Linked DNA regions of Homo sapiens. The protein of the gene in region 1 purifies or fractionates together with the protein of each later gene. This does not show direct contact. Each region holds a gene or a part of one and is shown on either strand. Other genes may lie near its edges. The genes, in order: PARL and CCDC92.

What was found.
Region 2: the proteins of PARL (region 1) and CCDC92 purify together in Homo sapiens (affinity purification with mass spectrometry; one large-scale study listed by BioGRID and IntAct). This does not show direct contact.

Annotation. Positions count from the first base shown.
Region 1 is NC_000003.12:183,878,374-183,882,187, forward strand, and holds part of PARL (presenilin-associated rhomboid-like protein, mitochondrial isoform 1 precursor), read right to left. Parts: intron 1-3,814. UniProt on the Homo sapiens protein: Required for the control of apoptosis during postnatal growth. Essential for proteolytic processing of an antiapoptotic form of OPA1 which prevents the release of mitochondrial cytochrome c in response to intrinsic apoptotic signals.
Region 2 is NC_000012.12:123,945,177-123,948,990, forward strand, and holds part of CCDC92 (coiled-coil domain-containing protein 92), read right to left. Parts: exon of another isoform or gene 528-3,814; intron 1-527.

The DNA.
Region 1 (3,814 bases):
ATAGGGAAGTTGACTCCAGCTTTGGATAAGAACTACAAAATATTGTGGCCATGGTGTTTTATCTACCACACTAGATGTGGCAGAGGCAGTTATGCTTCCTAGTCTAGAGCAGTAATTCTCAATTCTGGCTATACATTAGAACTGCCTGGTGAGCTCTTAAAAGTCCTACACCATGGCTCTACCTCATAACAAATGAGAATGTCTAGGAGTGGACCCAAGGCCTTAGTAGTTGTAAGACCTCCCCAGGTGATTCTCATGTGCCGCCAGAGTCAAGATCTATTCATACCACAGGTTTGGGGAAACTTTAGTTTACATACAAATCACCTGGAAATCTCATTAAAAACATTGTAATTTAGTAGGTCTGGGGCAAGGTGAGTCTGAGATTTTGCATATCTAAACAAGCGCCTAAATTAGGGGTTGTCAAACTGCGGCCTATAGAGTGGATTTGAGTCTCCAACTAAGAATGGTTTTCACACGTTTAAAGAGTTGTTTAAAAAGAAAGAGAAAGAATATGCGACAAAGACCACATGCGGCCATATTTTCTATCTGACCTTTTACAAACTAAGTTTGCCAAACCCCTGTCCTAGATGATACCCAAACTGCTAGTTCATGAACCACTTGGAATAGCAAGGAGCTAGAACCTGATTCCTCACTCTTCCAACAATACTTGTACTTAAATTAGAATGGTTTGTTGTCCCACAGATTAATCCTATCTAGGTAACCAAATAAAGAATTCCAATACAAATGTTTCACTACGACTTACTCCCAGCATCCATGCCCTCTTCTCCTTTTCCAAACCATACTCTAGAATTTCCAGCCATTTCATTTGATGAGACACACCAAGCCCACGATTGGCTTAAGCCAAATTTCACATCCCATTCCTTGGCAACTTCAAGGGATTCAAGGATGGGCACCTGTCCCAAGTTAGGCCAATCTGGTCCAGTGAAATTCAATTTCAAGATTTTGTTTGTGATAACGGAGAAGACAACTTTTTTTTCTGCTAGATTTGCACCTAAAAATATATAGCCCCAAGAGCTGCTGGCAGCCATCTTATAACCACAAGGAGATAGCATGCTGAGAGAATAAAGCCAACATTTAGGAAACAGAGACAAGCCATGGAGAAAATGGTGTCTGGTGACAATTTGAGACACTGGACTTGTCTCGCTAGAAGCCAGTCCTACCTCTACACTTTTGAACTTCATAAACCAATAAATTCCCCTAATTGTTTAGGTCAGTTAAGAGTTTGGTTTTCTATTGGAATAAGGATGCTTTTAGATGTAGTATGTTTATTACATATTATATAAGGTACATTTTCTCTTTTTAATGAGCTTTCATTTTAAATTTCCTTTTTTTGGTGGGCGGGGGGAGGTCCTCGCTCTGTCACCCAGGCTGGAGTGCAGTGGCACCATCTCAACTCACTGCAACCTTCGCCTCTAGAGTTCAAGTGATTCCCCTGCCTCAGCCTCCCAAGTAGCTGGGATTACAGATGCCTGCCACCAGGACTGATTTTTTTTTTTTTTTTTTTTTTTGTATTTTTAGTAGAGACAGGGTTTCGCCATATTGGCCAGGCTGGTCTCGAACTCCTGACCTCAGGTGATCTGCCTGCCTCGGCCTCCCAAAGTGCTCCCAAAGGATTACAGGAGTGAGCCACTGCACCCAGCCTTAAATTTCTTAAAGTGTGAAACAAGCAAAAGCATGATAAATGTCCCTAATTGCAAATGTTTGCTATCTTATTCACAGGTTTAGGTTATTCACCTCTTCCCAATCAGATGGGTATATAAGACAGGGAAATAAATTACTTACCTGAATAAGTTGGAAAACAAAGTGAAGCGCCGCAATAAAATGGATGGGGATGGGAAAGAGGGTCCCTTGAGGCATATGACAACTCACGACAGCAGGCCTGCCTTGACTCTGCTGCTTTGGTCCTTCTGCCAGGAACTAGTGATTTGGGGAAGCAATCAAATGTGCTCAAAGTGGGAGGATGTCATGAATACTTAAGTTGCCACCAGCCACAGTTATAGTTCAGTTTTTTTTTTTCCGTTTTTAAGACACAGTTTTGCTCCTGCTGCCCAGGTTGGAGTGTAATGCCGTGATCTCGGCTCACTGCAACCTCCGCTTCCCGGGTTCAGGCGATTCTCCTTCCTCAGCCTCCCAAGTAGCTGAGATTACAGGCGCCTGCCACCACACCTGGCTAATTTTTGTGTTTTTAGTAGAGAGGGGGTTTCACCACGTTGGCCAGGGTGGTCTCGAACTCCTGACCTCAGGTGATCCACCCACCTCAGCCTCCCAAAGTGCTGGGATTACAGGCATGAGCCACTGTGCCTGGCCAGCTCAGACTTTTTTTTTAATACAATCCTATAACTTTTAAGAAGAAAAAGTTACACCAATATATGTGTTCACCTAATAGTTACAATACAGTCTCATAAATGTTTTGGTTTTTTATTTTTTGGGTCTTTTTTTGAGACAGGGTTGCACTCTCTCACTCAGGCTGGAGGACAGTGGCGCCCTCATAGCTCACAGCAACCTTCACCTTCCGGCCTCAAGCAATCCTCCTCCCTTAGCCTCCCACGTGGCTGGGACCAGAGGCAGCACCACCATACCCACTAATTTTTTTTACTTTTTGTAGAGACAGGAGTCTCCCTATATTGCCCAGGCTGGTCTCAAACTCCTAGACTCAAGTGATCTTCCTGCCTCAGCCTCCCAAAGTGCTGGGACTGCAGGCCTGTGCCACCGCACAGCCTTTGTGCATTTTTTTTTTTTTTTTTCAGATGAAGTCTTGCTCTTGTCCCCCAGGCTGGAGTACAGTGATGCAATCTCGGCTCACTGCAACCTCTGCCTCCTGGGTTCAAGGGATTCTCCTGCCTCGGCCCCCCGAGTAGCTGGGATTACAGGCCCCTGCCACCGTGCCTGGCTAATTTTTGTATTTTTAGTAGAGACGGGTTTTCACCATGTTGGCCAGGCTGGTCTAGAACTCCTGACCTCAGGTGATCCACCCGCCTCGGCCTCCCAAAGTGCTGGGATTACAGGCGTGAGCCACTATGCCCAGCCTGTGCATTGTTTTTAAGAGTGCAACGGTAAAGACAATACAACTTAAATATACAGGTCAGTGTTAATGTTTATGTTACTCAAGATTTGTATGAACAAATTAAGTAGAAATGGCCTAATGTTCAAATGGAGACAAAATGTGTCTAAGCACACACAATTGATTAGATTCATTCCACTTAAAACAAAATAGAGCCCGAGGCATGGTAGTGTGTACCTGTAGTCCTTGCTACCAGGCAGGCTGACGCAGGGGGATCCCTTGAACCCAGGAGTTTGAGGCTGCAGTGAGCTATGATAGTGCCACTGCACTTCAACCTAGGTGACAGAACAACTCGCCTCTAAAAAATACAAAAGATACTGGGCGGGAGGATGGATTCTACATAAACTCTGGCATAACAAAATTATTTTCTTGACCCCATCGTGAGTTAATAGATGGTCAGTTAAAACAAAATATAATATATACGATTGACTAATATGTCAAGTATCTTACTTAAAGATATTTTGAGGCTAGGCATGGTGACTCAAGCCTGTAATCCCAACACTGGGAGGCAGAGGCAGGCAGATCACTTGAGACCAGGAGTTCGAGACCAGCCTGGCCAACACAGCAAAACCCCGTCTCTACAAAAAACACAAAACTTAGCTAGGCATCATGGTGGTGCATGCCTGTAATCCCAGCTACTCGGGAGGCTGAGGCAGGAGAATCGCTTGAACCCGGGAGGCGGAAGTTGCAGTGAGCTGAGATCGTGCCACTGCACTCCAGCCTGGGAAACAG
Region 2 (3,814 bases), on another chromosome or scaffold:
CTCTCCCTGGCCTTTGACTGCCGTCGCACTGGGCTGCAGATGATGGCAGAGTTGAGTTTCCATCAAGCAGGGCTTTCCTCAGTGGAGCCGTGAGCAGCATTCCGGCAGGAGTGAGAAAGGATGTTTCTGTCCCCGAAACCGTCTCTGTGCTGTAACCGCAAACTCTCCTGTGTAGGCTGCTGGGCCAGACACTAGTTTCTAAGTGGAACCCCACAGTTCCCGAGATCCCAACACTGTCTGCACAGCACGTGGTCTTGGGGGGCGCTGACCTTAACAAAGGAGCCAGCTACAACCAAGGCAGGTTCAGCGTGTGGCACACGTGTGCCGCGTGCTTGCTGTGGAAAGGGTGAGCACCTTCTGACCTTGCCCTTCCCTCACAAAGCAGAACGCTTGAAAGCGGAACAGCCTCAGCGTCAAAGGAAGGAAAATCCCAGGAGCGCCTGAGAGCTGTCAGTAGCGGTGCCTACGTTTTCCTTCCACTCAGCAATCCGGAGTCGTTCACTCTGGCATCAATTCCAGCACCTCACCTGGAGGCTGAATCCCGAAGAGCTGAAAGGGGTTTGGAAGTGGGAACTCTAGCAGAGATGCTTTCAAAGGACAGACTCAAATCCAGGATTCTGTTGGCTGATGGAAGAAGCAGAGCCCATATGTTAGTGGCTTGCTGTCAAAGAGAAAGAACCATTTAAATGTGATCCAGAATTTAGTGGGTCTTGGATGACAGGAGAGCTGCCCTAGGCCTAGTGTCCTACCCCTCACAAGCACTGTCCCCAGCTGCACAACCTGGGGGTGGCCTTGACGCTGGCATCCCCCGCCATCCATTTCCAGTCCATGATGATCTTGCTGGCATCCTGCTTTGAAAGCAGCTCTCAGATCCGTTCAACTCTCCCCGTCTCCGCTGCTGAGGCCGTCCTCACCCTCACCCAAATCCCTGCCAGAAAGCCTCCCTCTGTCCTCTCCTACCTGCTCCATTCTGCTCTCCACGTGGCAGCAGAGTGATCTTGTTTTTAAATTGAGACTACTTAAAAACCTCCAATGGTTCCCACTGCTCTGAGAATCAGACTGGTCTGCCCGGCCCTGCAACTGGCCCCGCCACCCTCGCTGGCCCTTCTCCTACCCCCAGGGCTCCAGGTGGCACGAGCTTTCCTCCGGGTGCCCTGCTGGGCTGTGCTTCTCCCACCCTGGTGCCCTCTCATGGCTCCTCCTCTGCCCAGAACACTCTTCTTAGGCCTCTCTCCCACCCACCTCTCCTGGGTCTCCACTGTCTACTTATCCTTTAGGTCTCAGTACAAGTTTACTTCCTCCCGGAAGCCCTGGCCCCCAGACTCGGGTGCATTACCACCCTGTCCCCAGTTCTAGTCTTTGTGTCTCTGTGAGGGTCTGTAAGTGTGGGTCTGTTTCCCGCCTCCTCGCACAGACTCCAGATTGTTCACTGCTGCACCCTAAGCCCTAGCACAGTGCCTGGCACCCTGGAGGCCCACGAATGGGCCTGGTGCCAGTCTGTTGAGTGCAGCTGTGGTGCCAGAGGAATGTAAGGGCTTCAGGGTTGAAAAGCTTTTGTTTCCATGGGCTTCCTATTTAGGTGCTTCTGAGAAGTGACAGCCTGCTGGCAGTCCTCACAGCCCTCGCTTGCTCTCAGCACCTCCTCTGCCTGGGCTCCCACTTTGGCGGCACTTGAGGAGCCCTTCAGCCCACCGCTGCACTGTGGGAGCCCCTTTCTGGGCTGGCCAAGGCCGGAGCCCGCTCCCTCAGCTTGCAGGGAGGTGTGGAGGGAGAGGCGCAAGCAGAACCGGGGCTGCGTGCGGCGGCGCTTGCAGGCCAGCTGGAGTTCTGGGTGGGCGTGGGCTTGGCGGGCCCCGCACTCAGAGCAGCCAGCGGGCCGGCCCTGCCAGCCCTGCCGGCCCCGGGCAATGAGGGGCTTAGCACCCAGGCCAGCAGCTGCAGAGGGTGTACTGGGTCCCCTAGCAGTGCCAGCCCACCAGCGCTGCACTCAATTTCTCACCAGGCCTTAGCTGCCTTCCCGCAGGGCAGGGCTCGGGACCTGCAGCCTGCCATGCCTGAGCCTCCCACCCACTCCATGGGCTCCTGTGCTGCCCGAGCCTCCCCGACCAGTGCCGCTCCCTGCTCCATGGTGCCCAATCCCATCGACCACCCAAGGGCTGAGGAGTGCAAACGTACGGCGCGGGACTGGCAGGCAGCTCCACCTGCAGCCCCGGTGTGGGATCCACTGGGTGAAGCCAGCCGGGCTCCTGAGTCTGGTGGGGACGTGGGGAACCTTTATGTCTAGCTCAGGGATTGTAAATACACCAATTGGCACTCTGTATCTAGCTCAAGGTTTGTAAACACACCAATCAGCACCCTGTGTCTAGCTCAGGGTTTGTGAATGCACCAATCGACACTCTGTATCTAGCTACTCTGGTGGGGCCTTGGAGAACCTTTGTGTGGATACTCTGTATCTAACTAATCTGATGGGGAGGTGGTGAACCTTTGTGTCTAGCTCAGGGATTGTAAACACACCAATCAGCACCCTGTCAAAACAGGCCACTGGGCTCTACCAATTAGCAGGATGTGGGTGGGGCCAGATAAGAAAATAAAAGCAGGCTGCCCGAGCCAGCAGTGGCAACCCGCTCGGGTCCCCTTCCACACTGTGGAAGCTTTGTTCTTTCGCTCTTTGCAATAAATCTTGCTACTGCTCACTCTTTGTGTCCACGCTGCTTTTATGAGCTGTAACACTCACTGCGAAGGTCTGCAGCTTCACTCCTGAGCCAGTGAGACCGCGAACCCACCAGAAGGAAGAAACTCCGAACACATCCGAACATCAGAAGGAACAAACTCCAGATGCGCCACCTTAAGAGCTGTAACACTCACGGCGAGGGTCTGCGGCTTCATTCTTGAAGTCAGTGAGACCAAGAACCCACCAATTCCGGACACACTTCCTTTACAGGCACACCTTGCTCAAAGAAAACGGGATATACTAAAACATCCCGAAATGAGATGACCACCTCACCCGCCATGATGGCACAAAATGGGATGTGCCTATATGTAGATGTCAGTATTTTCTTCTACGCTCTCCCACGGGGGCAGAGGGGAATGGAGTACAAATGTTATCAGCAGCCATCTCTATCATAGTGTGGTATTACATTTCATTTGTAACAAATTTAAATATGATTTAGTAAGTATTCATACTCTAACTGCCTTGGTCAATCAGCAACTTTGAATTATAACAACGCTGTGTGTCATTAATCCACTCTGTTAACTGCAGAAATACAAAAGCGTCCTTAAAGCGTCCCATTATAATGGGCAGACAGCCTGGAGAAGAAACGGCAGGCGAGCAGGGAGAGTGTGACCATGTAACGCGCAGAGCTCCACAGTGAGCGCTGGTGAGCCACTCGGAGCCCTCACAGTGGGGGACAAGGGTCTCCTGGCCTGGGGCATTTCACTGACTGTCGCTCTCCCCTTCTTCCACACTCTGTGCTGACTGAAAAGGCCCTGACATGGAGACGCCATCTGTGCAGGGCATTCTACAGCTGTTAGGATATTCCTGAATAAGGCAGGTCCACTTGGGGCCAGGGAAACAAAACACATCTCCAAATGGCATCCAGATTACTCAATTATTTTCTCATCAGCTCAAAAGAGTAACAATATCACTGGCTTTCTGAGGGCAAAAGAGTTTTCACGGCTGAAAAGACAGTGGTGTTTTCCATTGCGATCCTTCACTACTGAAGAGAGGTAATCATTGTGATGATGTCATGCTCCCAGTACTGTGACATGACTGAAGCCACCGAGGCATCCTGTTTAGGCTGAGGAGACCCAGCCG